Homo sapiens: one gene and its partners. The protein of the gene in region 1 purifies or fractionates together with the protein of each later gene. This does not show direct contact. Each region holds a gene or a part of one and is shown on either strand. Other genes may lie near its edges. The genes, in order: MEAK7, NMT2 and NMT1.

The links.
Region 2: the proteins of MEAK7 (region 1) and NMT2 purify together in Homo sapiens (affinity purification with mass spectrometry; 2 studies listed by BioGRID and IntAct, with this or other methods). This does not show direct contact.
Region 3: the proteins of MEAK7 (region 1) and NMT1 purify together in Homo sapiens (affinity purification with mass spectrometry; 2 studies listed by BioGRID and IntAct, with this or other methods). This does not show direct contact.

Annotation. Positions count from the first base shown.
Region 1 is NC_000016.10:84,480,636-84,491,458, reverse strand, and holds part of MEAK7 (MTOR-associated protein MEAK7), read left to right. Parts: intron 1-2,036; coding exon 2,037-2,181; intron 2,182-4,399; coding exon 4,400-4,828; intron 4,829-8,748; coding exon 8,749-8,867; intron 8,868-10,750; coding exon 10,751-10,823. UniProt on the Homo sapiens protein: Activates an alternative mTOR signaling through RPS6KB2 activation and EIF4EBP1 repression to regulate cell proliferation and migration. Recruits MTOR at the lysosome, essential for MTOR signaling at the lysosome.
Region 2 is NC_000010.11:15,163,427-15,174,320, forward strand, and holds the start of NMT2 (glycylpeptide N-tetradecanoyltransferase 2), read right to left. Parts: upstream 5,268-10,894; 5' UTR 5,187-5,267; coding exon 5,077-5,186; intron 1-5,076.
Region 3 is NC_000017.11:45,060,494-45,071,316, forward strand, and holds the start of NMT1 (glycylpeptide N-tetradecanoyltransferase 1), read left to right. Parts: upstream 1-823; 5' UTR 824-836; coding exon 837-967; intron 968-10,823.

The DNA of each region.
Region 1 (10,823 bases):
CAAGCGATTCTCCTGCCTCAGCATCCCAAGTAGGTAGGATTACAGGTGTGTGTCACCATACCTGGTTAATTTTTGTATTTTTAGTAGAGACGGGGGTCTCATCATGTTGGCCAGGCTGGTCGCGACCTCCTAACCTCAAATGATCTGCCCACCTTGGCCTCCCAAAGTTAATTTTTGTATTTTTAGAGATACAGTTTCACCACGTTGGCCAGACTGGTCTCGAACTCCTGACCTCAAGTAATCCACTCGCCTTGGCCTCCCAAAGTGGAGGGATTACAGGCGTGAGCCACCACGCCCAGCCCCCTACTTCTGTTTTTGATTTAAATAATTTGAATTGTCTCCCTTTTTTCTGTCAGTGTAGCTAAAGATTCTTCATATTTTTGTTGATCTTTTCAATGAACCAACTTTTGGTTTCATTAAAGAGTAGCTGTGTAGTAATAACTTTTTTAGACAAAAATCAGGTAACACAGTAGAAAAGCAGCTTAAGAGCTGAGAGGAACTGGTCTGTTTATAACTTTGGGGTTCTGTAAAGAAACAAATTTCTCTCAGAAACGAGTGTGGCACCTTCTCTGTTTTCTTTAAGGAATCCCAGACTCTTAGACATTATTTTAGGTCCTTCATACAGCGGAGGGTAGCAAGAGGAAGGAGAGACACGCAGAAGCAAATGGAGAAAAAAATTCAGTTGATTGAGAAGGAAATAAATCTTCTTTTTTCTAAAAACAAGACCCTAGGAGAGACAAAAAGGCATTATGTCCCTTTAAATACACACACACACACACACACACACACACACACACACACACATCTTGATTAGCTTTTAATTAAGCTGACTTTAACCATTGAGCTCTTTAAAAAAATCATTTTAAATCTTTTACTACCGTATTTTACCTGGGACAAAAATGACTGGTATTTCAAAAGTAACACAAATATCAAACCAGAAAGGATTTTGATGTAGGAACCAAACTCAGGCTGTTGAGGTAAAAAAAAAAAAAAAAAAAAAAAAAAAAAAAAAAAAGGCGGGGCAGAAACTTAGCCGCCCAGCGAGAGTGTGGGCCGCTGCCCTGGGTCTTTTAGTTTGGGCCTGGCTAGTAAAGGTTATGGAAATAAAGCCCCTCAAGGCAGTCAAAATGTTTTTTTCCTTTTGGTGGCCTTGCTCTTTCCTTCTTTTTTTTTTTTTTCCCCCAGCTATGGGAATTTAGCCAATTCAGAGGCCTTGTTTCCCTATAATTTGGAACGTTCCCTCGGATTTGACCAAGTCAGGTAGAGTTGATCAAACCAAGTGGGAAAAAGACTGAAACAATAAAAACAGAAGCCACAAATAAAAACAGTTCAGCAAAACAAACACACGCTCACACAGTTTGTACAATTACTGAGTGCTCTAATGGTAAGGAGAAGACCATTGGTAAATGAAGACCAGTTGGTTGTTTAAGTTTTAGTCATCAGGAGAATTTTTAAGACAAAACCCCAATTCATCTACTTTCCTAGGAGTGGGGCCCAGGCTGCAGACTGCCCTCTGCCATCTTAGAAGCAGGAAAACCTCCAATTCCCCTTCCCTGTTGGAAGCGAGCTGCAACTCCAGAAAGCAGTTGCTTGCCCTCTATCATTATGGAAACAGGAAGACTTGCCTTCCTTTTTGGAAGCAAGTAAAACTCAGCAAAATAAACCTTAGATCTCAACCAAATTTGGGGAGATCAGGGATTTTCTGGAGGGGGTAGCTCCTGGGCCTCAGCAAATCATCCTGTTGGTTTGAGCAATGAAGACAGCAGGCATTGTGGAGCTGTCCATCCTCGGGGAGTCCTAAACCCCAATACTGTTGGGATGAGGTCAGAACTCCTGGACAAAGGCTTTGGGAAAAGTTCTAGGCCAGCCAAGTGCATCATTAGAAAAACGAGTAACTACATACATTGCATGACCTTTCCCCACATTGTGGCCCATCATAGTTGGTGTTAAAGAAAATTGCCCTTCTCCATGTGGGCATGACATAGGTCTCAGGATATGGTGGAACTGTTTTTAATGGTAAAATTGTGATCTTACAGTTTACAGAGGATCTGGTTGGCTCTGTGGTGCACGTGCTAAGCCACAGACAGGAGCTGAGAGGCTGGACTGGGAAGGAAGCCCCAGGGCCCAACCCCCGGGTGCAGGTGCTGGCTGCTCAGCTGCTCTCTGACATGAAGCTGCAAGGCAAGTGTGCGTGGACGCGGTGATGCAGGTCTTTTGCTGTAGAGCGGTACCTGCTGTCTCCATTACTGTAGCTGTGTAGTAAAGCTTTGAAACCAGAATGCGTGAGCCCTCGAACCTTCTTCTAGGTTTTCTAGTTTGTTGGCATATTTTAAAATAATCCTTATTTTCCCAAAAGCAATAGGGATGTCCCCACTTCCATTACTGATTTAAATAATTTGTCTCTTGTCCCTTTTTCCTCTTAGTCTAGCTAAAGGGTTTTCACATTTTTGTCGGTACTTTTTGAAGAACCAGCTTTTAGTTTCATTAATTTTCTGTTGTCTTTCTAGTTTCTATTTATTTTCCTCTAGCTTTTATTTTCTTCCTTCTGTTTGCTTTAAATTTGTTTGGTCTTCTTTTCCTAGTTTCTTAAGATAGAATACTAGGTTATTGATTCGAGATCTTCTTTTTCAAATAAGCATTTACACTTGCACATTTCCCTTTCAGCACTGCCTTCGCTGCATGCCATAAGTTTTGATAGGTTATGTTTTTATTTTCATTGATCTCAATATTTTCTAATGTCCCTTAGGATTTTTTCATTTGGCCTACTGGCTATGTAACAGTGTGTTATTTAATTTCTCCATGCCTGTGAATTCCTCAAATTGCCTTTTAGTACTGATTTTTGATTATATTTCATTATGTTTAGAGAAGATACTTTGTATTATTTGAATCCTTTAAAATTTGTTGATGCATCATTTATGGCCTATAGTATGGTCACTTCTGGATAATGTTTAAAGCACATTTGAGAAGAATGTGTATTCTGTTGTTGGGTGAGAAGCAGTATATATTTAAATTTAATTGGGATTAAAAAAAAAAACCTTGTGGCAAATCACTTTGCAAAGCAGACTTACTTTATAAATATGTTGCCCTTTTGTTTTAAAGCCAGATTTTAAAGTACAGCTTGAAAATAGGTTATATTTCAGAAGTTAGTTTAGATGAGGTATTTGGAACTTGGAAAGAATTTTACAAGTAAGTATCAGTAATTCGTCTTATGGGTAAACTGTTCATCCATCTAGAATCAGTATGTTTTAAAAGAAGAATCATGAAAATAAAAATTAAAGTTTTCAGTGAAGTAGAAAAGGTAATTCAGACGATTAAAATTATCCTTAAGATTTCAAGTAATATATAGGTAATGAGAAATGAAACTGTTTGAAAAATAAATAGAAATGATAGGAATTTTGAATTATCAGAAGTTGGGAGTACTTTTACATTTCCTGCTTAATAAAATGGGCCTGAGTTACACAAAATATTTCAGCTTAGTCAAATTTTCGCTAGGTTGGGAATTATAATCTCTGTAAATGGGGCCTTTGTGTCAGCAAGAGCTTAAGACGTAAAAGCTCCTCTGTTCCTTGTAATAACCGAGCGGGGCAGGTTCTGGCCTTACCTCCATTTTATACCTGAGGAAACTGAGGCACAGAGGTCCAGACCTTGGCAAGGTCATGCTGTTCCTGAGCTCGGGTTTGAAGCCAGCTGTTCGAGTCCCAGGTGTGTGCTCCCACGCTCTTACTGTCACCTCCACTCTTAGTGGGTGAGGGATGGAAAATAGGGCTCCAAGTGCTGTATGATTAAGCCTGATTAGTGGCGAATGAAACCCGCACTTCCCAGATAAACTGCAGGAGTCCCAGGAAGTGCCCTACCAGCCCCTTGACTGGCTGGGAACATTCCCCTTCCAGTGACCTTGGCAGGACCGACGCCCTTGGATGAGCGGCTCCAGGTGTAGCTCAGGCATTTATTCCAGCCCCATTGCCAGGGCACTGCCATCTCGAGGGGTTCTGAAATGCTGCTTGGAGAGGAGAGAAAAGTGTTGAAGTCGGATTGTTTAGATCAGTGCTGGCCAATAGACAAAGCAAGCCCCATGTGAAATTTTCCCTTTTCTAGGGACCATGTTAAAAGAGTAAAGAGAAACAGGGGAAAACTGATTCTAATAATATGTCCTAAATACAATTTTGAAATGTAATGAATATTTAAAAATTGAGATATTTTACATTCTTTTTTCATACCAAATCTTTGAAATCAAGTGTGCCTTTTACACTGACGGCACCTCTCAATTCACACGAGCCCTGTTTTCTGTGCTCAGTAATTGCATGTGACTCGTGGCTCCCACACTGATCAGTGTGGGTTTAGATAGTAGCTAAATGGTGACATAACAGCCCCACTAATGCTGACCATCCCCTTCCCCTAGATGGCAAGAGACTTCTGGGGCCCCAGTGGCTGGACTATGACTGTGACCGAGCTGTGATCGAGGACTGGGTGTTCAGGGTCCCCCATGTGGCCATATTCCTGAGTGTGGTCATTTGCAAGGGCTTTCTCATCCTGTGCTCGTCTCTTGATCTGACTACCCTGGTCCCTGAGCGTCAAGTGGACCAGGGCAGGGGTTTTGAGAGCATCCTGGATGTCCTCTCTGTCATGTACATCAACGCCCAGCTGCCTCGGGAGCAGCGGCACCGCTGGTGCCTGCTCTTTTCGTCTGAGCTCCATGGACACAGCTTCTCCCAGCTCTGTGGCCACATCACTCACCGGGGACCCTGTGTGGCTGTCCTCGAGGACCATGACAAGCATGTGTTCGGTGGGTTTGCCTCTTGCTCTTGGGAGGTGAAGCCTCAGTTTCAAGGTAAGACTTGGTGTCCTGAACCTTGACGAGTGGCACAGCACGGGCAAAGAGCTCTGGAGAAAGGGAGAGGGTGGGGGTGCTAAATAGGGCTCTCCCATCTTCTCCAAGTGTTTCTCTAGACGCAGTCGGGGCGATAGGAAAATGTGATGCTGCTCTATGGTGTTTATCACATCAGAGTTCTTCAGGACAGGCCGTGTGACCCCCAGTTTTCAGGCGAGGACACGGGCCCAGTTATTACACGGTGCCGGGTCTATGGGGCGTGGGAGAAGTCAAGCCACAGATGCCTCCGAGGGGACCAGGAGATGGTAATTGGTTCAGATCGGACATTTTCCTTCCCTGGGCCTTCCTGCCCCTGCCCCCACCGCCACGCGTTTGCTTGTTGGAATTTGGAAGCTTTGTGCATGACCTTGAATGCACTGGATGAAAGGTTCTAAGTAAATTCTTTTCCTTCCCTCAAGGAAGAATACTCTGATGAAAAGAGTCCTTTAAAAATATTTAAAACACAGGCCAGGTGCAGTGGCTCACACCTGGAATCCCAGCATTTTGGGAGGCTGAGGCAGGAGGATCACTTGAACCCAGGAGTTTGAGACCAGCATGGGCAACATAGTGAGACCTTGCCTCTATCTTAAAAAAAAAAAAAAAATAATAAGGCTGGGCGTGGTGGCTCAAGCCTGTAATCCCAGCACTTTGGGAGTCCGAGGCAGGTGGATCACTTGAGGTCAGGCATTTGAGACCAGCCTGGTGAACGTGGTGAAACCACGTCTCTACTGAAAGTACACAAATTAGATGGGTGTGGTGGCGCATGCCTGTAATCCCAGCTACGTGGGAGGCTGAGGCATGAGAATTGCTTGAACCTCGGAAGCAGAGTTGCAGTGAGCCGAGATCATACCACCGCACTCCAGCCTGAGCAACAGAGCGAGACTCCATCTCTAGATAGATAGATAGATAGATAGATAGGTAGATAGATGGATGGATGGATGGATGGATGGATAGATAGATAGTTTTTGAAATGTTTACAGATGCGTCGCCCATCAGTGGGCTGTCCTCTGTACTTGAGAGTGGGCCACCATCCCCAGGGTTTGCCTTTGGCATTCCCCGGTACATCCTGTATCTTACCCCGCACCTCTGGAATCGTCATTTCTCCACCAGGCAGAGGTTCTGAAGGCCGGGAACTGTGTCCAGGTGGAGTTGCCCTTGCAGGAGAGCTTTCAGCAGAGGCTAGGTGGCATCTGGCTGGAATAGGTAGCAGGGGTCACCAGGTTGAGGGTTGGGCACCTCTATCTCCTAGATTGCATTGTTTCTAGGGTTTGATTTATATCTAGGTTTCAGGATGTTCTAGATCTTTATCTTAGTTCTGGGAATGGTGGGAATTCTCCCCAAATCAAAGTTTCCAGGTGCCAGCCCAGGGCCGGCCCTGCAGGTGGGCCTTTCTAGAGACAGCAGCCTCAGCCTTGCCACGGCCACTCTCTTCTGCACACCCACCTTGCCCTGCCTCCATGTCACAGGCATAGGGCATGTGCCCACCAGCCCAGCCTCGGGCTCCGGGGAAATTACACATTGCTCTGCCTCACTGCATGGCTGAAGGCTCGGCTTTAGGATATGAAGAGACCCTGAGCATCATGATCAGGGTAAAGCTGCTGCTCCCTCCAGAGCCTTTAATGTTAATTTCAGATGGACTCTGCTGGCTCTTTATGTTTTATTAACAAGCAGACTTAATCTTGCTGAAGCATGTGGGAAAAATGCAGTGGCCAAGTTTTCAAACCCGAGTTCATTCTGTTGCAGTACGTGTCCATACTCACGAAACAACAGCAGAGGGCAGCCTCACACCACGCATGGTACAAATCCGTGGACTGTGGGTCAAGTTCGGAGAGCGTGCTGTCCGCTTGTCCTGGAAATAATGACCTCTAATATCTGAGACTTTAAGTGATTTAATAGCTGTGGGACAAACAATGAAGGCAAATGCTGGGGAGGGTGGCCACCTCCTTGAGTACAGAGGATATTTCCCTGCGGGGTAATGTGGCTTCGTAAACCTTTTTAAAGGACTGTTTTCATCAGAGTGTTTTTGCTTGAGGAAAGAAGAACTGATTATACTTAGAGCCTTTTGGCTTGTGTTTTCTGTGCAATCATTGAAAAGGCCCAAGGCTTTGGATTGAACACAGGATTTTGAGTCCCAGCTCTAGCCCTGGGCAAGGTGATTGATTCATTTTCTGGGCCTCAGCTCCTCAGAATTACACGAAACCATGCTGTGTGGGCAGGCAGCTCCTCGGCGGCCGAGCGTCAGGTGCTGGTGGCCGCACGCTTGGGTATTGTTTTATGGGAATGAGATAAGGAGTCCTCGTTGTTGGTGTCACTTTTTTCCACAGATAATCATAACTCATCAGGTCCTTGCCCTGTATTCTGGGAATGATGCTTCCCCCTCCTGGCTTTCCCTATGGAGAACAGCCCTTGGGGGTGGACTAGGATCTGGGCCTATCGCAGCTGAGGCCTGAACTCTGTGGCCCTGCGACCTTGCTCCGCAGCAAGACGGGCTCAGGATTGCAAAGCAAAGGGCCGCTTACCTGAAGTCCAGTCGGGGAGAGCGGGGCGGGGGCAGTGCAGACGGGTGTGACCCAGCTGTTCATGGCGGCGTCTAAACCTGCCCTCAAGCCTCTGGGGCTGCTGAAACCCAGTGAAGCAAGCCTGAGTCTGTAGCCCAGAGTAAAGCCCTTCACTTAGCTGGTTCCAGTGGAACTTTCTAGCCTAACTATCCTCCTTCCTCCACCCGATGCTCTCAAGCCCCACTGTTCCGTACCTGTCCCACACCTTGTCCTCATGGGATCCCTTCTCCATGGGGACTCTTGCCCCAGCCAGCTCTGTTTCAGGGCCTCCCTCTTGACCTCGGAAGCTGCCTCCCAGAAGCCTCCCAGACCCTGATGGCAGAGGCCCCCCAGCGATCTTTCTAGATTGGAGCCTTGGGCGGTGTCAGCCCACACTCTACAGACTGAGCCCTGTTGGCTTGCTCGGGGCCATCGTCCTCTTCCAGCCTCCTGGTCTTGGTGCCCCCTTCTTATCTGCGTTCCATCATGGTGCCCCCAATTTGCTTCCTGTGACTTCTTTCCCACCTGATGAATAGCCCAACCCCAAATTCCCATGAGCTTGTTTCTCTGCAGCCTTCCAGCTTGTTGTGACAGTTGTGTATGCTGGTGTCGAGGCGGGCAGCCCTTCCGGCCAAGTCCTCAGAACATGGTGGGAAGTGTCCCTCGCTGGGAGCTCCGAGGACGAGGCCTGGCCTACGGCCCTGTCCCCAGTGCTGAGGTGCTTATGGAGTGGAGGAGTCTCTGAGACTGGGGACCCATAGTTTCCAGAGTTTTGACTGGTACCTTTCTTTTAATGGCCTGTGTGCCCACCCCATGCCTTTGGGCGAGGGTAAACTACTTCCTTTCGTAGGCCGTGCCCCTGGGGACAGCTCTGCAGCTGCAGGTTTTCTCTCTCTGCATGGTACGTTCTTTCAGGCCGGGGTCAGCACTACGCAGCGTCACTTGCCTGCTCAGGTAGGCTGTGCTGGAGGCCTCAGTCTCTGCGGAGTGACCACCTGCCCCGTGCTCATAAGCTAAAGGAAGCCTGCTCTTTCTGGCTCGGATGTGCTTGGCCAGCCTGAACTGATTCCAGCAGACAGTGGGCAGAGTTCTGATCTCTGCTCCCCTGGCCAGAGCTAAAAGATGTCCCATTCCTTATTAGCTGTCCCTCTAATCCCTGCATCCCCAGCTCATCCACCTGGGTCCCTAGCAGCTTGTCCCAAACCCTGATCTGCCGACACCTGGACATGGGTGAGAAGGGTCTTGGCCCTGTTGCTTCCTGAGCTGCAGCTTACCGGCATTTCCGGCCCTGTGGGACCGGCTCAGACACCGACCCTGTTTGTTTTGTTCTCTGGCTACTTTCAGGGGACAACAGATGCTTCCTGTTCTCCATCTGCCCCAGCATGGCTGTGTACACACACACGGGCTACAACGACCACTACATGTACTTGAACCATGGACAGCAGACGATCCCGAACGGACTGGTGAGCCCGGGCAGAGCGTGGTGGTCTTGCCTTGGTGATGTCCCCCAGCAAAGGTGTCAACCCCGAGGCTCAGCTCCACAGATCAGGGCAGGGCGCGTGGCATTCAGTTCCTCACGCACGCCATGTCCAGTTCCTTCTGTTTCCAGGGCCGGTGCTGGGGGCAGTGACAGCTGGGCCAGGGTTTCCCTTAGAGAAGGATGTGGCCTCTGCTGGGGCTTCTCAGTGGTTTGTGTGCAGATGGCACACTTGGCCCATTTTTCTGGCCCTCAGATGATTGGTTTGTAGCCTTTGTGGCTAGGGATGGTGTCAGCGCCAGACCTGTCCCTGCGCGTCGCTGGCCTGCCTCATACGTGGGAGTGCTGGACCAAGGGGAATGGACGGCCGGCAGCTCATGAGACAGCATGTGGGGCCCCAGTTGGGGTGACCGTGGCTCCTGTCCAGCCCTCGCTTCAGCTTGGTGACATGGCACAGGAAGCAGGGGGAAGCGGGGGAGGCCTAGGCCGGGTGCAGGGAGTGGGTGGGCACGGGTCCAGGCAGGCCCGAGGGCAGGAGTTGGGGCAGCATCCACGCCGAAGCTCAGCTTGCTCCTGCCAGCTCCCCTGCTGATTTCTTTCCTCTGCTGCTTGACAGAAAGCTCTTTTCTTTTCTTTTTTTTCTTTTTGAGATGGAGTCCACTCTTGTCCAGGCTGGAGTGCAGTGGCGCGATCTCGGCTCACTGCAAGCTCCGCCTCCCAGGTTCACGCCATTCTCCTGCCTCAGCCTCCCAAGTAGCTGGGACCACAGGCACCCGCTATCACGCCTGGCTAATTTTTTTGTATTTTTAGTAGAGACGGGGTTTCACCATGTTAGCCAGGATGGTCTCCATCTCCTGACCTCGTGATCCACCCGCCTTGGCCTCCTAAAGTGCTGGGATTACAGGCGTGAGCCACTGCGCCCAGCTGACAGAAAGCTCTTATTGGGAAAATCCAGCCCTGTTTCTGCAGAGCTGAGGGCAGAGAAGGCTGGTCCGATATAGGGACCAGCGTCCTTCCCAGGCTTACCACACTGCTGCCCTGGAGAGAGGGAGGGGCGTGGCCAGGCCACCTAGAACACCTGGCACCTTCTGGAAAGGGCGGTCTGGTGGCGGCAGGAGTGAGGGTGCCAGCCTCACAGGCAGCACCCGGCAGGCCCCGGTCATCGCTCGTCATTGGCCCTGAGAGAGCGGCTCCGCGTGTCAACTCTGGGCAGTGTGCTCGGGTCTCTGGTTGCCCAAGGTCAGAACTAGGGCGTGCCAGGTGTTACAGGCCTACCAGGGACCAGAGGAGGTTCTCTGCAGGGTGAGATTGAACAGCTCAGAGCCCAGCCATGTGACTGAGGGTGGAAGGCACAGGGGTTCGCATCCGCCTCCGGGTCTGCCTCCGCATCCTGTAAGCCACACACTCGGAGCTGAGTTTCCCAGCCTGTCTTGGGGTGAGGATCGCTGCCCGGAAGCGGGGCACTGGGGCCCCAACACAGGGGGTTTGCAGTGTCAGCTTCTGTGTTCACCTCTCCCCTTATCTTAACTGGGCGGGGCCCTGGGCCCTGGAGGTCTCTTTCTCTATATATATTTAACATTTTTAATTCTCTGATGTCACTTGTGCTTTCAGCCAGCAAATCTTCTTGAGAAAGAGCCATGGGGTGGGTGTCTGGAGACATAGATGACTGTTCTAGTAACTTGGCATGGGATGCTTAAATGGCAGTAATTGATATATTTCACAGTTAAGGAAAACAAGATGATGGCATTCACCACTCACCCGCCCCTGTCTCAGGCTGGTACTTAAGGCGAGAGGCTGGCTTGTGGTATTTGATGTCCACAGACCCTGAGGAGTTGCTGATGCTATTCTCTGTCCTGGCTTCCTTTGCAGGGTATGGGGGGGCAGCACAATTACTTTGGGCTTTGGGTGGATGTTGATTTTGGGAAAGGACACAGCAGAGCCA
Region 2 (10,894 bases), on another chromosome or scaffold:
TGGGCCAAAGGGTGACATCACCCATTCAGATGCAAGTCTTAGCAGACACTTGATCATTTCAAACAGTAGTTCTTGATTTGAGGAGGTCCCTCAGGCAAAGACTGTCGTTAATCTATTTTTCCATTTAGATTTATACAGTTGATAACAGATCAAATTTCAGAAAGGGCAGCTTTGAGTTATCCCTAAATTTTCCATAAGAAAAACTTATTGCAAGTCATAATGTTTCTGCATTTTCCCACTGATACCACACAGCTGACAAAGGGGAAGTTCCCAACTCAATTTCAACAACAGACATATGAAGTCAGATACAACAACATAGTGCCCAAAGAAGAACTTCCTTTTTTTACCCCCTAAATTGGGGATGGTAGAAGACAGATTATGTTCTTTGTTAAAAGAATTCCAAAGTTTTCATCTTTGTCCAATACCAGATCTTCAATCTTTCTAAGAAAAAGAACTCTTAAAAACGTCTTAGGCCGGGGACGGTGGCTCACGCCTGTAATCCCAGCACTTTGGGAGGCCGAGGCGGGCGGATCACAAGGTCAGGAGATGGAGACCATCCTGGCTAACATGGTGAAACCCCGTCTCTACTAAAAATACAAAAAAATTAGCCAGGCGTGGTGGCGGGCGCCTACTGTAGTCCCAGCTACTCCGGAAGCTGAGGCAAGAGAATGGCGTGAACCTGGGAGGCAGAGCTTGCAGTGAGCCGAGATCGCGCCACTGCACTTCAGCCTGGGGGACAGAGCGAGAATTGGTCTCAAAAAAAAAAAAAAAAAAAAAAAAGGTCTTAACCCTATTTCATGTCTACCCCAGGGACTAATTTAGTCATGTATCTGCCAACAAAAACATACTCACCTATGTTTATTTTGGTTCCTATATAAATCTTCTTAGTAGCTGCTTCCAGTGAATATTGAGGGAAAAGCTCTCTTAACGGAAAGCTATGAGAAACATCTATTTTTCTAGGAAGTATATGCTCTCTGTAAGTCAATGTTGGTTAAGCAAGGGGACAGATTTGGTTTTGTTACCAAAGTTCAACACGAATTTTATTTGACTCTGTCTCCAACAATGGACCATAACATTAGCTCAGTAAGAGATCATGACCAATACCAAATGTATTTCATAACTGGAGAAGCCGGACATCAAAAGGACAGCGAGAAGACAGTGGGTTCTAAATAATTCTTCAACAATTTGGCCTGTCCTCAATGTCCCCAAAGCCCTTCAGAAGAAAGTAACAGAAGGCAAAAACACAGCAAAATGAGGGAAGTATTAAAGATCCTTGAGCATCTTAACCTCAGATCCAACGGTGAAAGCTCCTAGGAAATTCATCCTCCAGGCCGGGCACCATGGCCTGTAATCCCAGCACTTTGGGAGGCCGAGGCCAGGGGATCACCTGAGGTCAGGAGTTCAAGACCAGCCTGACCAACATGGTAAAACCCCATCTCTACTAAAAATACAAAATTAGCCAGGTATGGTGGCACACGCCTGTAATCCCAGCACTTTGGGATGCAGAGGTGGGGATCACCTCAGGTCAGGAGTTTGAGACCAGCCTAACCAACACGGTAAAATCCTGTCTCTATTAAAAATACAAAATTAGCTGGGCGTGGTGATGCACGCCTGTAATCCCAGCTACTTGGGAGGCTGAGGCAGGAGAATTGCTTGAACCCGGGAGGTGGAGGTTGCAGTGCGCCAAGATCGTACTATTGCACTCCAGCCTGGGTGACAAGAGCAAAACTCCATCTCAAAAAAAAAAAAAAAATCATCCTCCAGGTCACCTTTTTGTACCACTGCCACCCATAGCAGAACAGAAATCTTCAGTAATCTGGACTATTTCTAATAATTCATATAGGAAGCTGGACTGAGGTTAATTTTTATCTATGTAGAAAGTCTTTCCAGGCTCCTTCAAGCTCTTTATAAAGACCTACTCCCTAATTCTAATTGCAAATCGTGTGTTAAAGTAAGTTATATAAAGATGTCTTTAGGCAATCCTCTATTAGCCTGGTTCTAATTGCCAAACATTGTTTGAAAATAATAAAATTATACTTGTCTGAATATAGTCTCACTAATTAAAACTGACAATCCCTTCTTCCCCCATGTTTTTTGTAATTCATGAAAGTTTTATAGTGGTTTGCCACTTCCACGCTTGGGTGGACCAAAAAGTTAAAGAGTACATTTAACTCTTTACACTGGCTTACACCTGTAATCCCAGCACTTTGGGAGGCCGAGGCAAGCATATCACCTAAGGTCAGAAGTTCGAGACCAGCCTGGCAAACATGGTGAAACCCCATCTCTACTAAAAATACAAAAATTAGCTGGGTGTGGTGCCACGCGCCTGTAATCCCAGCTACTTAGGAGGCTGAGACAGGAGAATTGCTTGAATCCAGGAGGCGGAGGTTGCAGTGAGCCGAGATTGCACCACCGCACTCCAGCCTGGGTGACAGAGAAAGACTGTCTCAAAAAAAAAAAAAAAAGGTACATTTTCCATGAAAAACAAGATATAAAGACAGTGAGACTCAAGTATTTTATAATACTTACGCCATTGCTTTTAATTAAACATAAAACATCTGATATTTCATTCATGGACTCTTAGCATTATCTATAAAACGAAATACCCTTTTTAGTCCATGAAGAAAATTCCATGAAAATAAAAGAACAGCATATGCAGTTTTACATATTTAAATACTTACATTTTGGTGCAAAACAAGACTCTAATTGGGTATTTTCCTTTTATTTGAGGCTTTAGTTTCAACTTAATATGTCTAAAAGGACTAGTAAATACATTATACTGAGTGGTGGGGTAAATGAATTCTTTCAGGCCACAAGGGCACTATTCAGTAAATTACCTCTCTGCACTGGCCGCTGCCTGGTGGCCTCAAATTGACAAACTGCCTTTAAGAGGTGAAACATGTTCTTACTGATTCATCCAAAGGCTCATTATTTGTTATTTATTTAAACTGATGGGAATGAAGAGGCCGAGTATAGAAAAAGAGTCTTTCAAATTTTAACATTTACAAACTTGAGCTACTTAAAGAAAACCTAGGTTTCTACTGCGATATCATCAGTACATGAGCCAAATAAAACACATTTACTCCCCCAAATTTGGCACACATTGTCTAAATTCAAATCCAAACAGGCAATCCAAGGAGAGCAGTCATTTGGAGTTTTCCTAATCTCCTTACATTTAAATAGAGTACAATACATCCATTATGTTAATCTTTTCCCACTAGAAGCTATTAACATGGTATCTGCTCTTGGTGAAAACATTTCAGTCCATGGGGCATCTCTAAATTTTGATTAACCTTTCTAATATATAAAATGTGCTGATATACAAAACTGAAAACTTCCGAAGGCAGCACAGATGCCTCTGGGTGCTACTCTGGGAACTTTAGCTTCTTGAAAGGTGTCGGGGGACAGGCTCAGATCAATGCGCACACAGATGAGGAATTCTTTGTACCAGGGGCATTCTCAACAGTGTAAGCAAAGAAGTCCTAATCAAGCCCCCAACCTAGAATATCAATCAAAGGAGGAACAATAAACAGAAATTACAGCAGAGAAGATAAAAGTCCAGGGTCTCTCCAGAAAGAAAACACAGGTACTGAAGCTAATCCATCAGCTTGCATCTGCACCTGGGCCCATTTCTGGCAATAGAACTACCGTTTCAAAAACATATTTGTATTTAGCTATCTATCACAAACACGTTTCTATCCCTGCATAAACAGGGCTCAGGTTCAGATTCCTATGCAATTTCCTTTCCTCTCTTTAAAAAAAAAAATATTCTAGACTCGAACATTCGATACTTGCAGCCGCCACTGAAGTATTCACGGCAAAGATAAAAACAACTTGCAAATGGGAGATGCACATAGTCAGCTTTTCTTTTTCTTCATTTGTTAATATTTTATAATGAATTAGAGGTCAGTCAAAAGTCCCTTTCTATAATAAATCTTAAAGTAGACAAGTAGAATGCAAATGATTTACACTTTCAATGATCAATCATTTCAAGAATCTCTCTACGAACTGAGTAAACCATCTGTGACTCAGGCCTCCCTATCATGTTTTTTAAGCTGACCCACTTCTCCATCACTCACCATGGTTCGAAAAATCTCACTTCTAAGGGTGTAGCAAGAACCGCTCTGTGCCAGCGCATAGTTTGAATCCAATAGGGTAAAAGGGTAATGTAAACAGCACTTTAAAAGGACACCAGTTTTTATTTAAAATGACCCACTGCCTCTAAAAAGAGAGCATCAACACCGGCCTTCACCTGAAGCAATCCTTTTCTCCAACAGAAGAGCAAATCAAGTCTGCAGGGTTCGGGGGCAAAGGGAAAGGATTAAGAAATCCGATCAAGTGTGAAAATGCGTGGTGCATCGAGTTTTGGAGATCAAATACCAGCTTTGCAAACAGGATACGGCCAGGTCAGCGGGAGCCCGGTTCAGGGGATCGGCCCTGCTCTGAAGAGCTCTAGGGACAGGCGAGGCGGTGCAAAGCCCAGTATCCCCAGCAGGGGCCGGGCCCGGGACCCCCTCGGCGCCAGAACTTTGCGCAGTTCGCCGCCTGCGGCCCCGACACCATCGGGGCACCTCCACGCCGCTCCACCCACGTCTTTGCCCATTCTTTTCGGGTGGCGGCTGCGGAGAGGGAGTCTGAAGGGACTTAACAAGGATGGCAGGGAGCAGAGGAGGGCGACCTCCTACCCCAGGCTGCGGCCGCCACAAAGGGAAGGGCGTAGCGCCTCTCCTCGGCGCCCACCGGAGCCACCCGCGGGCGAGGGCAACAGGCGCCTCCTGGGCCAGGCCGCCGGCGGGGATGGGCGAGGCTGGCCGGGGGCGCGCGGCAAGTGACAGTAGCGTCTCCCCGCCCGGGCCCCAGCCTCCCCGCCCACCCCGGGCCTCGCCTCCCCGCGCACTGCACTCTCCCGCGAGCCGCGCGCCCCGGACCTCACCATGGGCTCCGCGCCACGGAGAAGCCATCGCGGGGCGGAGCGGCCGAAGAACCCCCAGTCCTGGGAGCCACCCCCGAACGGGAGACCGTGGCGCGCGCGGTCCCCGCCCTGTCGCGCCCGGTGCGCCAGCGCGCCGCCCCTACCCTTTGGCGTGCTCCGTCTCCTCCTCATTGTCCCCGTCTATCCCGCACGTGTCCTGGTCGTCCAGTTCCAGGCTCTGCTGGCTGGCCGCAGACTCGCTGTCCTCCGCCATCGCGGCGGCGCTGGCTGGGGAGGCGGTGCTCGGGGCCGGGCCGGAGCGGCCGCAGCTCCCTCTAGTGCCTCCCGCCGTACTGCTTGGAGTCGGAGCCCGGGCGCTACGCCCCGCCCCGCCCCGCCCGCGCCCCGTCCCGCCCTCCGTCCCGCCCCCTCCCCGCCCTCCGTCCCGCCCCGCCCTCCATCCCCGCCCCTCACCGTCCGCGCCCAGCCCGCCGGCCCCGCCCTGCCCGCCGGCCCCGCCCTGCCCCACGGGCTTGAACCCCGCCCACCTCTTCGTCCCTCCCCACCAAGCCCCGCCTCTCCCCGTCCCGCCGGCTTCAATCCAGCTCTCTAACCCCGCCCGCCTCTGAGACCCCTCCCCTCCAGCCCCGCCTTTCCCCACCCTGCCGGCTTCAAACCCGCCCTCTAACCCCGCCCACCGCCGCAGCCCCTCCCAGATGGCCCCGCCCCTCCCCGCCCCGCCAGCTCCAACCCTGCTCACCCTGGCCAGCCCTGCACAGGGCCGAGTCCTGTACATCCAGGCCTGCGCGGTGCCTCTGCCTGGGGCTCGGCTCTCAAAGCTGCAAACGTGCAGACTTGACATCCTGAGTGGCGGCATTTTTGGAACACAGGCCATGCGATTTTACTTCTGGACGAATTAGGGAGCGCTCCCAGCCCGTGCAGGGGTTTTTCCCACTCAGGAGTAGGCACTCAGGGATGGGGCTTTCCAGAAACTCTTCCCGCCCCTCCACATACATGTTAACAATTCCATTTCGCATCTATCTATCCATCTAATACATTATAAAATCAAATTCAAAGTCAAAAACAGTATTTCCAGCCCTCCACCGCCCTGTCCCAACCAGGCTTGCAGCACTAAAACTCTTGACAGAAATTTTTGAGCTACCCCTGCTTTCCCTGGACACTACTACGGACGGCTCAGACCAGAACAGACATCTTGAGGGACTTGGGGACGTGTCCACGATGCTGGGGGATTGGACAGTTTCAGGTAGGCTACCCTGGCTTTCCCAAAGTCAAGGTCATGACCTAGATTTCCAAGCAAACGTGCACGGCCTTCTGTGCTGAAATTGTCCGCTGTCTCTCTCAGAAGAGGGAAGGGAGGCATTCTGTAGTACTGCCAAATAGAAGACCGGTGAAGTTCAGCCTCTCTTATTTGCTACTGCATTCTGTACAGAGCAGTCCTGTCCTTTGCTTTGCTGAGATGATCTTGTTCAAATGTGCTGCTAGGCCACCGGAAGTCTCCGCAGTGGTTTTGCAAAGATAATCATCAGAACCCGCTCAGTGAGGAAAATGAGACTTTAAAGAGCCACCTGAATTTTTTGGTGTGGGTCCTTTTTTTGCAGAAGATACTAGGAGCATTTTATGGCTTTTTTCCCCAAGGGAGACTATGTTTTTAAAACGCAATGAGCTAGAAGTATCAAAAGATGAAAACTGCAGAGCGATTTCAAAGCCCGTCAGCTGTTTGGCATTGAGACAACTAAAATTCTGTAAGAAGGGCAAATGGGGTCAAAACACAAAAGGAAATACAATATTGCCTTTAACAACGGCAACTATTTCTGAGGCAAAATGTCACATGTCACCTCTGTGAAACTTTAGGATAGAAGCAAATACAGATGAGTGAGGTTCCTGCAGCTCATCTCTGTGAACATGGATTGTTGGAGAACCCGCAGCCCGCTCGGGTAACCAACAGGAAACTGGCCAGGAGCAAGCCTATCAATCAAATCATCCACTCTAACCTGCCAGAAGGGTTCTCTAAAAGAGTTTTTAAAACTTAAGGCAAAGGAAACTCAGCAGTCATATATTTATCTGAATTTTCAAGAAGTTTTGACTAAGAACTGCTCTAAAAAAGAATAAGAAAACAAATAATCCTGGAAAAATAAAATGAGGGCATCAAAAACCAGTGAAACACTAGAAAACAATGACAAACAGGGAACATCTGTTCCCCAGAATGGAAACAAGTTGGTACAGTACTGGATTGAAGTACATCGGTACAGTACTGGATTGAAGTATTATATAATACAAATGTTTTACAGCATTAATCTTTGGAAGGAAGGAAAAGTTTACAGATGACCCTGGGGCTTCCTAAATCCTACTGTCCCGTATAGAAACACTATGTTTCTAAATATTTTTACTTATTTCCCTGGCTTAATTTCAGAATTTGGAGAATTGGAACCAAGTGGCAACTTCCAGCATCTTAGATCTAAAGTTTATTTGGTGGATGGGAGCACTGTGAAATGGCTGCCAGTGTATTATTTTTTCAAGTTTCAGTTATTTATTAATCAGTGTAATCTCCAATAGATTACATCAACATGATTTCATTCATTTAGAGGAGAACTATTTCCTGGTGAAGTGGAAAATTGTGCGGACGGATTCTGGAAGACCTTCAGTCTAAAGCAGCTTTATAGTGAAACATTTCATTTAGAAATCTGGACCTTCTTTCTTCAGTTTGCTGTGATCCACATTAATTGAGTAGAACTTGAATTGATCATCGGGACCCAGTTTGTTCCAGGGATCTGGGTGATTCTTTCAGTCCCAACTAACATCTGGATTGAAAAATGCCAGACGCAAGAGATACAGTCCTGCTCCAGTACCTCTAGCTCCAATAAATACTAAGAGGGAGATCAAGTTTGGATGCTTCTTGGCCTGACCGATGATCTGGTGGAGCGTGTCTGCGGCAGAGGCCTCCAATTGGAAAGGAGAGAACCAGCCTAGCCACCAGGCCCTGGGCTAAGTAGTATCTTGCCAGTGTATTTTAAAAGGCCTTTGGGAATTTTCTATTCTGCCTGGCCCACTCCTACTACAGATGTAAGATTATAGTTGTACAATTGGTCTTGTTTCATTTAAATTGTTTTAACTTCTTTTTTAATTTTGGAAAAATACATACAACATAAAACGTACTATCCTAACCATTTTTTTTTTTTTGAGACGGAGCTTCACTCTTGTTGCCCAGGCTGGAGTGCAATGGCACAATCTCAGCTCACTGCAACCTCCGCCTCCTGGGTTCAAGCGATTCTCCTGTCTCAGCCCCCCAAGTAGCTGGGATTACAGGCGCCCGCCACCATGCTGGGCTAATTTTTGTATTTTTAGTAGAGACGGGGTTTTGCCATATTGGCCAGGCTGGTCTTAAACTCCTGACCTCAAGTGATTCGCCCGCCTCAGCCTCCCAAAGTGCTGGGATTACAGGCGTGAGCCACTGCGCCCGGCCTGGAGTGCTTTATTATGCAGTAATAACTAACCAACTTACAGAAAAACAAAGACCAAAAGAAATCCTTAGGCCGGGCGCGGTGGCTCACGCCTGTAATCCCAGCACTTTGGGAGGCCGAGGCGGGCGCATAAGGAGGTCAGGAGATTGAGACCATCCTGGCTAACACGGTGAAACCCTGTCTCTACTAAAAACACAAAAAATTAGCCGGGTGTGGTGGCGGGTGCCTGTAGTCCCAGCTACTCAGGAGGCTGAGGCAGAATGGCGTGAACTCAGGAGGTGGAGCTTGCAGTGAGCCGAGATGGCGCCACTGCACCCCAGCCTGGGTGACAGAGCAAGACTCTGTCTCAAAAAAAAAAAAAAAAAAGAAAAAAAGAAAAAAAATCTTAAAGACACTCCTTTTTTTACTATCACGATCACTATCTGTATATCTGGGTATGTCTGAAAAAGACTTATGCCAAACCATTAGTTTGCACTTTCCATTCTGGGTTCACAAAAGCAAAGCCCATTACTTTTGCAATACACTAGCTATTCTTGCTAGCTGGTTTGCTTTAGAGTCTGGCTGGATTTTATTTTATTTTTTAAGTGACTCCGTTTCTTTTTAATTTTTGAGGAACCCGGTAACTACCCTGCACCATTTGCAACTGTGCGTTGGAGAAGCTTTTCTCGTGGTCACTGTGAGGGTAATTTGCACCTCCTATTGCTTGGTATTCTGCTAAAAGGTTTTCATACTTGTTCAAACCAGCAGGTTGGTGCCACAGTGAGTATTGCAGATCAGCTGCATTTCAGAACTTCACAGTTGGTGAGTCTGTGTCTTGTCCCTGTAGGACAAGTTGGGGCTTGCGGGTGATGCCAAGGAAAATTCTAGAGGAAGCCGAACAATGCCACAGCAGATGGAAGTATGTGTTCATTTAGGAGGTGGAAGGTGCCTCCATTCTATAAATAGGGTCACCTTGAAACTGCACTGCTTGCCAAACTCCTTAAATGTGTTCAGGTTTTCCCCACGAGTATATCACTGGATAGTTTATTGCCAAACTTCATTAGTTATTTTATTGATAAGGATGATATATTACAGAAGTACACTGTCTCATCAGACATTTTTACTCGAAGTAGAAATACTAAAGGAGGCAAAAGGATCTGTTCTAGCCTGTCCACAATTAGAGCTTCTGGCCCTTTCAGGAAGAAAGGATGGAGGAGAAAGTAACTGATGAAGAAAGTGAGGGCAGTAGGTAAAGAAGAGGAAAGAGATAGAGGAAAATCAGGAAAGGGAGGAGGAAACAAAGAAGGGGAAGAGGTGAGCGCCAGCTGTATACACACCAAGGGCTGCAGCAGCCTCCAGATGCCATGTCTCCCTGCATCCAGGCTCCATCACTCTTTTCAATAGCGCTGCTTGGAAAATTCTTCCATAGCAATCGGAGCATGTTCATCCCCTGACTTAGAAACAATGTGGCTCCCAGTTGCCTTCTGCATCAAGTCAAATCCCCCTAGGTTGGTGTTCAAGTCCCTTCCACACCATAGCCTCACTGTACCTCTGGTCTTAGCTCTGACCTGAGCCTCTCCAGGCCCTCCATATGCCCCGGGCTCCCTTCCTCGTCTCTGGAGGCACCAGGCCCTTGAATGCCCTTTCCTTACTACCTGCCATCACCAAGGACACAGCTCCCATGTTGCCTCCCCTGCCGAGGGTTTATATGTTTGCCATCATCCCAGCACTAGCCCAGCAGCTCCTGAAGAATCATACGTCATGTGCTTCTCTCTGTATCTCCATCACCCAAACAGTGCCTGTAACAAAGAGGACACTTCATAAGAGCTATAGAACGAATGAATGAATCTATGACACCCCTTTTTTCCCTGTTTGCCAGCCCAATATCTTTCTAAAGCTGTTTTTAAATTTAATTTTATTTTTATTATTTGAGATGGGGTCTCACTCTGTTACCCAGGCTGGAGTGCAGTGGCGCGATCTCAGCTCACTGCAATCTCTGGTCCCAGGTTCAAGCAGTTCTCCCACCTTACCCTCCTGAGTATGTGGGACTACAGGCATGTGCCACCACACCTGGCTAATTTTTGTATTTTTTGGTAGAGACAGGGTTTTACCATGTTGACCAGGCTGGTCTCAAACTCCTGACCTCAAGTGATCTGCCTGCCTCGGCCTCCCAAAGTGCTGGGATTACAGGCATGAGCCATGGAGCCCAGCCTTAGCTGTTTTTTTTTTTTTTTAAATTAAAATTATATCTCTTTTGAGACAGGGTCTTGCTCTGTTGCCCAGGCTAGAGTTTAGTGGCAGAATCACAGCTTACTGCAGCCTCGAACTCCTGGGCCCAAGAAATCTTTCCGCCTCAACCTAAAGTTGCTTTTAGTGGGCACCTAATAATATAGCCCATGGAATGTATGGGCTGTGGTGTGATATTTCCATATATACATACAATGTATAATGATCAAATCAGAGTAATTAGCCAAAAAAATCACCGCAAACATTTGTCCTTTCTTTGCATTGGAAACATTCAAAA
Region 3 (10,823 bases), on another chromosome or scaffold:
GAAGGCGGCCGTATTTAAAAAAGAAAAAAGAAAGAAAGAAAGAAAAGAAAAGAAAAAAAGGGTCGTTGTGGAAAATTCTTGTGGGGAATTAAAGGGACCACGTGTGCGCGAAAGAGCTTGGCGAAGATAAGTACCTGGAGGCCAAGATGAGGCGGCGAGCCCTGCCTCCCTAGCAGTGTGGTCTCCTGGCTTAGGGTCAGTGCTTCGCACAAAAAAATCCACTGCCTCTCATGAGACCTTGAACTGCCAATGACCGCAGGTTGCCCAGACTCCCGAGTGAGGAAGGCGGCCAGGAGTCAACTAGGCTTCTTGCGGAAAAGCCCACTCTAAGAAGGCCTGGGGCATTCCGGCTCCAGGCAGGTAGCACCCGCGGGCCTCAGGCCCTTTCACTTACCCGGGAAACGTAACGGTCCTTAACGGCAGCCAATAACGGCTCCCAGCGGCCCAGGCACTGGCAAGGGCAGGCTGAAATCAAACCTCGGATTTTGGAACCTCCACGCCTGAAACCCTAAACCAGCATCGAACTACAACTCCCATCATGCCAGGCGGCCGCCCGGTTCCCAAGGGTCGGTCCCACCAACCTTGCGCCCCTTCTTTCCTCAAAGCGTGGCCGAATGCCTAGGCTTCCGGGTATCAGTGGCCCCGCCTCTTAATCCGACCGGAGCCGTCCCTCGTGATTCCTGGGTATTGTAGTCAGTTTCCTGGGAAAGAGTCGCTCCTAGTGGCAGCTCGCTTCGCCAGAAAAACTACAAAACCCAGAATGCAGCGCAAATTCCCCTTGTCCAATAGGAACCCCCCATGTAGTGGGGCGCGGAGCCCTGCTCTCGCAACTCAAGATGGCGGACGAGAGTGAGACAGCAGTGAAGCCGCCGGCACCTCCGCTGCCGCAGATGATGGAAGGGAACGGGAACGGCCATGAGCACTGCAGCGATTGCGAGAATGAGGAGGACAACAGCTACAACCGGGGGTAACGAAATCCTCGGAGTCCAATTCCCGTCCAGCCTCCCACAACCTGGGTCTCTGGGGTGCGGGGAAGTCACCGGGAGCTTAGTCTAGCCCCACCCTCATGTTCTTATTGGCTAAGTCACTAGGATTCTGCCTGGCGATTGGTTATTGCCTTTGTCATTTACCAAGGGTGGGTGCTCTGGATATTAAGGGCCGGAGACGTTCAGTACTTTTATTATATAAAAGTTCTATGCAGTGTTCCACTCGTGTGCTTCAGGCCATTCCTGGGAAAAGAGCATGTTGGACGATGGTTTTCGATGGTACAACACAGGACAGTCTAGTAACAGTACAGTTCAAAGGGAACGTTACTTATAGACGTGTTGTTTGAACAACGTGACTAGCAATAAACGAATCATAAAACATTTCGCAGCAGTTCACCCTCAGTGAGGAAACTCATCAGACTATACAAACTGTATGTATAATTATATTGTAAAATATCACTACCAGAGAATCCCAAAATATAAACTCACCTTATAAACCTATGTAATTAACGGTATGGTAATGCTTTGATTTACATAGTTTCCATTGCTCCAAATAATCCATAAGTATCCTGAACGATATATTAATATAATTAAGTCTTCGAACATCTTTGCCTTGTTACCTTTGCAGAGCAGCCCCAGGCTTCAAGAAATGAGCGATGTTGTTTCTTGGAGAGTATTTGGAATCCTCGGGCTCCATACTGCCTATCCTGTACTTTAGGGTCTTGCCATTAGTTACTATTTGTTCCTAGGGATGAAGAAACACACCAGGCATTTGAATGTTGAATTCTTTTCCCAAATTAGTTTTTACTTCTGTAAGCCACAGCTTATTCATCTTTCTTCACATGGTTAGTGCCTGGCACTGGCACTCACGCTGTCTCTCCCCATCTTCCTGTCTATATTTGTAGATATATTTTTAAACTGAAAGTCGTGAGAGATTTTTGGGTGTATAACTTGCTGAGTCTGAGGTAGTCTGATTTTCGTAGCCAGCTTGTTATTCGCAGTATTGGTGGCAGTGCAGATATAAAGGTATAAAGACCAAGGACTGCGTAGAAGAGATGGTCCCACAAGATTATAGTACATATTTTTATTGTATCCTTTCTATGTTTAGGTATGCTTAGATACACAAATACTTACCATTGTATTATAGTTGCCTGCAGTACTCAGTAACATGCAGCAGCCTATTGCTCCTAGGCTACAAACCTGTATAGCATGTTACTGTAATGTACACCATATAGCCTAGGCATTTAGTAGGCTATACCATCTAGATTTGTGTAAGTACACCCTATAATGTTGGCAAGGCAAAAATCACCTAACCATGCATTTCCCAGCACATATGCCTGACGTTCAGTGAAGCATGACTGTATTTAAGTGGTTTATAATCTGCTTGTGGTAAATCTTAGGTTAAAAGATCTAGCTTTTATGTTCTTCAGCCGGCATTAAAAATCACAGGAAGGGCCGGGCATGGTGGCTCATGCCTGTAATCCCAGTACTTTGGGAGGCAGATCACGAGGTCAGGAGATCGAGACCATCCTGGCTAACACTGTGAAATCCCATCTCTACTAAAAATACAAAAAATTTAGCCGGGCGTGGTGGCGGGCGCCTGTAGTCCCAACTACTCGGGAGGCTAAGGCAGGAGAATGGCGTGAACCCAGGAGGCAGAGCTTGCAGTGAGCTGAGATCACGCCACTGCACTCCAGCCTGGGCGACAGAGCGAGACTCCGACTCAAAAAAAAAAAAAAAAAAAAAAAATCACAGGAAGAAAGTAGAGGAATAGGAAGCTTGCCAAATTTAGTTTTTATAAGACTGTTCTGTTGCTGTAACTCACAACAGATCTAATGTAATAAAAGTCTTCTTTTGAAGTTTGATATTCCTAAAAATGGAAGAGCTGAGAAAGAGGAAGTAGGAACAGGAAGAAGGGAAAGTGAAGCTCTCCTGAGTAGAGATCTGAATCACAGATGAGAGTTGGTGAATGTGAAAGTCATTCCAGAAGTGAAAGTGTGGCATTTTCTTTGCTCTTTTTGTAGTTGCTTTTATTTTTATCTTCTTAACTGTTGTCCTGACCAGTGTCCTTAGGTTTGTGCCCTATAATCTGTGAATCACTTTTCAAAACTGTGTGCCAGAAAGTTATTTTATTGGCCTGGCGTGGTAGCTCACACCTGTAATCCCAGCACTTTGGGAGGCCGAGGCAGGTGGATCACTTGAGGTCAGCAGTTCGAGAACAGCATGGCCAACATGGTGAAACCCCGTCTCCACTAAAAATACAAAATTTAGCTGGGCATGGTGGCGTACGCCTATAGTCCCAGCTACTCCGGAGACTGAGGCAGGAGAATCACTTGAACCTGGGAGGTGGAGGCTGCAGTGAGTTGAGATTGCACCACTGCACTCCAGCCTGGGCAATAGAGCAAAGCCCTGTCTCAGAAAAAAAAGTGGCACACAGTGGCTCATGCCTGTAATCCCATCACTCTGGGAGGCCGAGGCGGGTGGATCACGAGGTCAAGAGATTGAGACCATCCTGGCTAACATGGTGAAACCCTGTCTCTATTAAAAATAGAAAAATTAGCTGGGCATGGTGGTGCATACCTGTAGTCCCAGCTACTCGGGAGGCTGAGGCAGGAGAATCACTCGAACCCGGGAGGCGGAGGTTGCAGTGAGCTGAGATTGCGCCACTGCACACCAGCTTGGCAACGGAGCGAGACTCCATCTCAAAAAAATAAATAAATAAAATTATTTTATTTGTAGTAGAAGTAAGTGATAACCTTAAAAACTTTGACAGTTTGCAGTGGTGTCTCTGTGCATGGTTATGGTCTGGGTGAAAAAATTATGTTTATTAGCGTCCCAAATCTAAAGATCTGTGAAAATGAGTTTGGAGGTAGTAGGTGAAAAACCAAGGGCCTAGTCTGGAGGAGAGAGTCTAATTCTGGCACTAAGAATCTGGGGTAGAGTCAACATTTTTCCATGAACTTTGAGAGGAAATGGTTTTGGGGAGAAGCAGCAATGTGGGAAAATGCAGCACGGCACAGTAGAAAAGCATGGACTTTGGAATAATTTAAATCTGGTCTGAGGCCAGGCGCGGTGGCGCACATCTGTAATCCCAGCACTTTGGGAGGCTGAGGTGGGCAGATCGCTTGTGGTCAGGAGTTTGAGACCAGCCTGGCCAGCATAGTGAAACCTCATCTCTACTAAAAATACAAAAATTAGCTGGGCATGATGGCAGGCGCCTGTAATCCTAGCTACTTAGGAGGCTGAGGCAGGAGAATCACTTGAAAACAGGAGGCAGAGGTTGCACTGAGCTGAGATCTCTCCAGTGCACTCCAGCCTGGGCGACAGAGCAAGCCTCTGATCTCAAAATCTCATCTCAAAGCTTGGCTCTGACACTTAACAGTCCTGTGACCTTGGGAAAGGTACTTAACTCAGAGTTGTAGGGATTAATGAGATAACATCTGGAATGCACTCCTTTTCCTCCCTCCTCCTCTTTCTTCAGATCGTCCCTAACCTCCCAGCTTGCCCCTCTGCTCTTATCACATACTGTATTGTAGCTTTTATCGTAACAATAGTTATAATAACAATAAATATAACTACATGTTTGGTAATTTTTCTTAATGTGTCTGGTACCTGTCTCATCTGACAGTAAGGAGCATGTAAACAGGATTGTGTCTTCGAAATGCCTAGCACTTAGTGGGCATTAATGAGTATTTGCTGTATGAATGAATGGCAGATATTAAAGTGCCTAGCCCAGTATTAGTGGAGTTTCATCTCCCCTCACCAAGTGAGAGGATGTCAGATTTTTCTTACATACACATTTTCTCTCCCCAAATAATTCTCATTGTAAGCCTCACTACAGTTTTTATGAAATACCTACAGAGGCAGGGCATGGTGGCTCACACCTGTAATCCCAGCACTTTGGGAGGCTAAGGCGGGCGGGATCATGAGGTCAGGAGATCGAGACCATCCTGGCTAACACAGTGAAACCCCATCTCTAATAAAAATACAAAAAATTAGCCAGGTGTGGTGGCGCATGCCTGTAGTCCCAGCTACTCGGGAGGCTGAGGCAGGAGAATGGTGTGACCCTGTGAGGCGGAGCTTGCAGTGAGCCGAGATTGCGCCATTGCACTCCAGCCTGGGCGACAGAGCCAGACTCTGTCTCAAAAAAAAAAAAAAAAAAAAAGAAATACCTACAGAAACCAGGAAGCTCCAATTTGCTGTGGAGCTTTCCACTGTTGTGTGCTTTCCACTGTGTTTTGCTTCTTGAAATGTTTTTTGTCTTAATATTATTTAAAATGTTCTCAAAAATCATGTAAAAATTGACAGAGAAGTTTTCCTTTCAATGCTAGAGAGTCTAAAATGTGTAATATATAATAAAGGTTAATGATAGTTCGAGCTAACCCTTATTCTCCTGGGCCTTTTTTTTTTTTTAAAGAGACTGTGTCTCGCTATGTTGCTCAGACTAGTCTCAAACTCCTGGGTTCAAGTGATCCTCCTGCCTTAGCCTCCCAAAGTGCTGGGATTGTAAGCATGAGCCACCACACCCAGCCTCCTGCCCCTTTTTTTCAGGAACTAAAGTCATAGTACTCTATGCTAATAAAATGAGCTAAATTCATGTACTGGATTCTGTTGCCCGGGCTGGAGTGCTGTGGCGCGATCTTGGCTCACTGCAACCTCTGCCTCCCGGGTTCAAGAAATTCTCCTGCCTCAGCCTCCTGAGTAGCTGGGACTACAGGAGCACACTGCCACACCCGGCTAATTTTTCATATTTTAGTAGAGACGGGGTTTCACCGTTGTTGCCCAGGCTGGTCTTGAACTCCTGAGCTCAGGCAATCCACCTGCCTTGGCCTCCGAAAGTGCTAGGATTACAGGTGTGAGCCACCACGCCCGGCCAGTTGTATTAGTTACTTATGTCTCTTTGTATATGAATTTAGTTCTTGACTTTTCTGGTCTTGTGTTTCCTCCGTAATTAAATCAGCATAAACATTTGGTGAATATAAAACTTCATGTGGTTGTGTGTAGTGGCTCATGCCTGTAATCTCAGCACTTTGGGAGGCTGAGGCAGAAAAATCACTTGAGCTCAGGAGTTCGAGACCAGCCTGGGCAACATGGTGAGACCCCATCTCTATAAATAAAAACAAAAAAACCCAAACCCTTCATGTATACATATAGGTATACATGCATACATATGCAGTGTGTATGGGTGCGTCTCTTCAGTTTTTCTATTTAAAAATTTTTTAATTTAATTTTAAAATTATTGTTATTACTTTGGAAACAGGGCCTCGCTCTGTCGTCCAGGCTATAGTACAGTGGTGTGATCATGGCTTACTGCAGCCTTTGACCTGGGCTCAAGCGATCCTCCCACCTCAGCCTCCCAAGTAGCTAGGATTGTAGACATGCACCATCATCCCTGGCTAATTTTCTTTTTAAAAAGTTTCTGTAGAGATGGGGTCTCACTATTTAGCCCAGGCTGGTCTCAAACTGCTGGCCTCAAGTGATGCTGCCACCTTGGCCTCCCAAACTGCTGGGATTGTGGGCATAAGCTCCTGCATCCAGCTGGTTTTGTTTGTTTTTTTACTGCACTCAATTTCCCCCAGTTACGTGCCTAGCGTAATTATCCTGAACAATTGAGAGGAGAGTCAGATAAGATAACCTTTATGCAGCATCCCCCTGTAGTTCGTGATTCATCTATATGGTTTAATTTGATTTTTTTTTTTTTTTAATGAGAGTCTTTCCAAGAAGTATTGCCAAAGAATAAATCTCATCAGTTGGCAGATTTTAATTTGGGGGTAATAAGTGAAGATTGTCTGAGTGTTTTGGAACAAAAAAGAACTTTTAGACTATTGTGTTCTAGGAATCTTTCGGAATTTATTTTGCAGTGTCTTCAGTGTCATTGAGATCCTGGTAAGCACGGGTCAAGAGCCCTCTGACAAGAGGTGTCTCATCTCCATCCTGCTCTCTTACTCCCTGGGACAGGTTAACATGGATTCTTTATAAGTTCTCCTCATTTCCTGGTTGTGAGATACTATCCCTTATGAAAACTTAGGAGGAGAGAAAAGTCTTTCTGAAAATAAATTCCATAAAGCTAGCCTTACTTGTTTTTGTTTTTTTCTTCAGCTTCTCCAAGAGTCGTTCTTTCCCTATTTATTTGATGGCTTATAGCTGCAGCTAGCTCTTGGAAATAAGAAATCTTTTTAGTTCCTTTTTAATTTCTCCCTTCAACTTTTGGTTTTTCAAAACTAGATCAAAGCAGAATGGAAAGAGAAACCTCATCACTGATATCAAATAAGTGTTCTAATTTTGTTTCCCAATTAAATGGCAATTAAAAAGAAACTAATCAAGAGCTGCTTCAAAGAGAAGAGACTGGAAAGCAGAAGAAATGGAAAGTAAATGAGAGCCTATTTCAGGGACTCGCTGCTCATGGCACAGCAGTTTTGCTGATTTTTCACATTGTTCAACTAATATGCTCACGCTAAAATTCCCCAGCTTTACTAAGTTGGCAGTTAACCCTTTCCCTATAGAGCCCATAGATTTATGAGCCATACATTTAGTAACTTCAGGAGGATGCTTCTTTAACTCTTTCTCTTCAGCTTTTTATCTGAAATCTCTACCCTTCAGGCCTCTCTTCCAATTCCTCAAAGAAGATGTCCTTGTGATTGTTACATTTAAGGGACAAAAATATGGTGTTCTCTATTGAGAGCGCCAAAAATACTAAACCGGAATTCCTCCATAGGCTCAGTATTTGCCTCAAAAATGTCCCAGCACTTTGAGAGGCTGAAGTGCGCAGATCACTTGAGGTCAGGAGTTCGAGACCAGCCGGGCCAACATGGCAAAACCCCATCTCTACTAAAAATACAAAAATTAGCTGGGCGTGGTGGCACACACCTGTAGTCCCAGCTACATGGGAGGCTGAGACAAGAGAATCACTTGAACCCGGGAGGCAGAGGTTGCAGTGAGCCCAGATGGCGCCATTGCACTTCAGTCTGGGCGACAGAGAGAGCCTCCATCTCAAAAAAATAAACAGAACAACAACTTTCTAGAGCTGCTCTCTTGAGAGACAACTGAGGAGTCACTATGGTTAAGTGTTTAGTAAATGTTACTATTATTACTACGTAGTGGGCATTGTGCTAAGCCCTTTACTTGGATTATATCCTCCATGATTTCACTTATGAAGACTTTAGCGATTTTTGTTTGTTTGTTTCTTTTTTTGAGTCTCACTCTGTCGCCCAGGCTGGAGTACAGTGGCACGATCTTAGCTCACTACAACCTCTGCCTTACAGGTTCAAGCAATTCTTGTGTCTTAACCTCCCAAATAGCTGGGATCACAGGTGTGCACCACCATTCCCGGCTAATTTCTGTATTTTTAATAGAGACACGGTTTTGCCATGTTGGTCAGGCTGGTCTCGAACTCCTGGCCTCAAGCAGTCCACCTGCCTTGGCCTCCCAAAGTGCTGGGATTATTACAGGCGTGAGCCACCATGCCTGGACTTTAGTTTTTTGTTTTTTTGGGTTTTTTTGAGACAGAGTCTCACTCTGTCGCCCAGGCTGGAGTGCAGTGGCGCGATCTCGGCTCACTGCAACCTCTGCCACCCAGGTTCAAGCGACTCTCCTGCGTCAGCCTCCTAAGTAGCTGGGATTACAGGTGCCTGCCACTGTGCCTAACTAACTTTTGTAGTTTTAGTAGAGACGGGGTTTCACCATCTTGGCCAGGCTGGTCTTGAACTCCTGACCTCGTGATCCATCCTCCTTGTCCTCCCAAAGTGCTGGGATTACAGGCGTGAGCCACCATGCCTGGCCAGACTTTATTTTTTATTATTTATTTATTTATTTATTTATTTATTTATTTTTGAGACAGAGTCTCGCTCTGTTGCCCAGGCTGGAGTGCAGTGGCGTGATCTTGGCTCACCACAACCTCCACCTCCCAGGTTCCAGTGATTCTCCTGCCTCAGCCTCCTGGATAGCTGGGACTACAGGCACATGCCACCACGCCCAGCTGATTTTTGTATTTTTAGTAGAGATGGGGTTTCACCATCTTGGCCAGGCTGGTCTTGGAACTCCTAATCTCGTGATCTGCCCACCTCAGCCTCCCAAAGTGCTGGGATTACAGGCATGAGCCACCACTGCGCCCAGCTAGACTTTAGTTTTTATAGTGAGGCTTGAGATTTGCATCTCCACTGGTCTCTTTGACATCTCAGAGGATCCATTCTGAACTTGCTAGGTTTCTTTCCCCTGCTGAATTGAGTTCTGCATCTTGAGTCTGCAGCAGTGTGAATCCTATCTTTGGCTCCATTTAACAGCCTATGGACGTTCCCAAACTTGGGACCCAGTTTGTCTCTTCATGATAGACAAATATTATTTTCAGAAGTCATTCTAATCGCACCACTGCACTCCAGCCTGGCAACAGTGAGACTCCATCTCAAAAAAAAAAAAAAAAGTCATTCTAGTAGGTGAGATTTCTGCCAGCATTGAGCCACTGCTCAACATATTCTTGATAATGGTCTCTGAACAGCATTTGATTTTACCTTGGAGTTGCAAAGTCAAAGTCTAACTCGCCAAACAAACTCAGTGTGGAATATACACATTTGTCTCATTCCGGTTTTAAGGAGTTTAGTATACCAGAGCTTTTGTGACCTCTAAAAAGCAGTTATCGTCCATGACAAGAATTGGCTCGTTCACCCTCAGTACTCTGGCTTACTATCCCAGGGAGGGCCGAGGGTGGCAGCAAAAGTGGTCTTTTGTAATCCCTTTTTATAACCTGCTGTTCTCTTCACAGACCTCCCAGGGTACCTTTTTTTGTGTGTGTGTGTGTGAGATGGAGTCTCACTCTCACCCAGGCTGGAGTGCAGTGGCGTAATCTCGGCTCACTGCAACCTCTGCCTCCTGGGTTCAAACTATTCTCTTGCCTCAGCCTCTCAAGTAGCTGGGATTACAGGCACCCGCCACCATGCCTAGCTAATTTTTATTTTTTATTTTTGAGACAGAGTCTCGCTCTGTCACCCAGGCTGGAGTACAGTGGCGCGGTCTTGGCTCACTGCAAGCTGCGTCTCCCGGGCTCACGCCATTCTCCTGCCTCAGCCTCCTGGGTAGCTGGGACTGTAGTCGCCCGTCACCACGCCCGGCTAATTTTTTGTATTTTTAGTAGAGACGGGGTTTCACCGTATTAGCCAGGATGGTCTCGATCTCCTGACCTCATGATCCGCCCACCTCGGCCTCCCTAAGAGCTGGAATTACAGGCGTGAGCCACCGCGCCTGGCCAATTTTTGTAATTTTTAGTAGAGAAGGGTTTTGCTATGTTGGCCAGGCTTGTCTCGAGCTCCAGACCTTAGGTGATCTGCCCGCCTTGGCCTCCCAAAGTGCTGGGATTACAGGCATGAGCCACTGTGCCCAGCCCCAGGGTACCTTGATGGCAGTACTAAAGTGTTTTTATTTTTCCCATCATTTGGGATTCACAAGCAGTTTTTGATATAACTAATTGGTGGGAATGTGCGGAGTTGGGGGTATTGCACTGAGTGATCCTTAGCCGCAGAAGTACAGAGACTAGACAGCTGATACTGATTCATGCCATGTCATTTCCTTCTGGGCATCTTTGCCATTTCATTCACCTCTCTTTGGTCTTTCTGAGTACTAATAGGATTATTAGTGAACTTACCATACTTCAAGAGTTAATTGATTTGCAAAAGGATTTCCTGATGTCTAAAAGTAGAATCAAAAGGATATTAGAGGTTAGAGTTTATTTTAATAAGTTTCTCTGGAAAATTTGAATTTCTGCCCAAAAAATTCATTTTTTATTTGAGACAAGGTTTCACTCTGTCACCCAGATCGTAGTGCCATGGTGCAGTCCTCCTACTTCAGCCT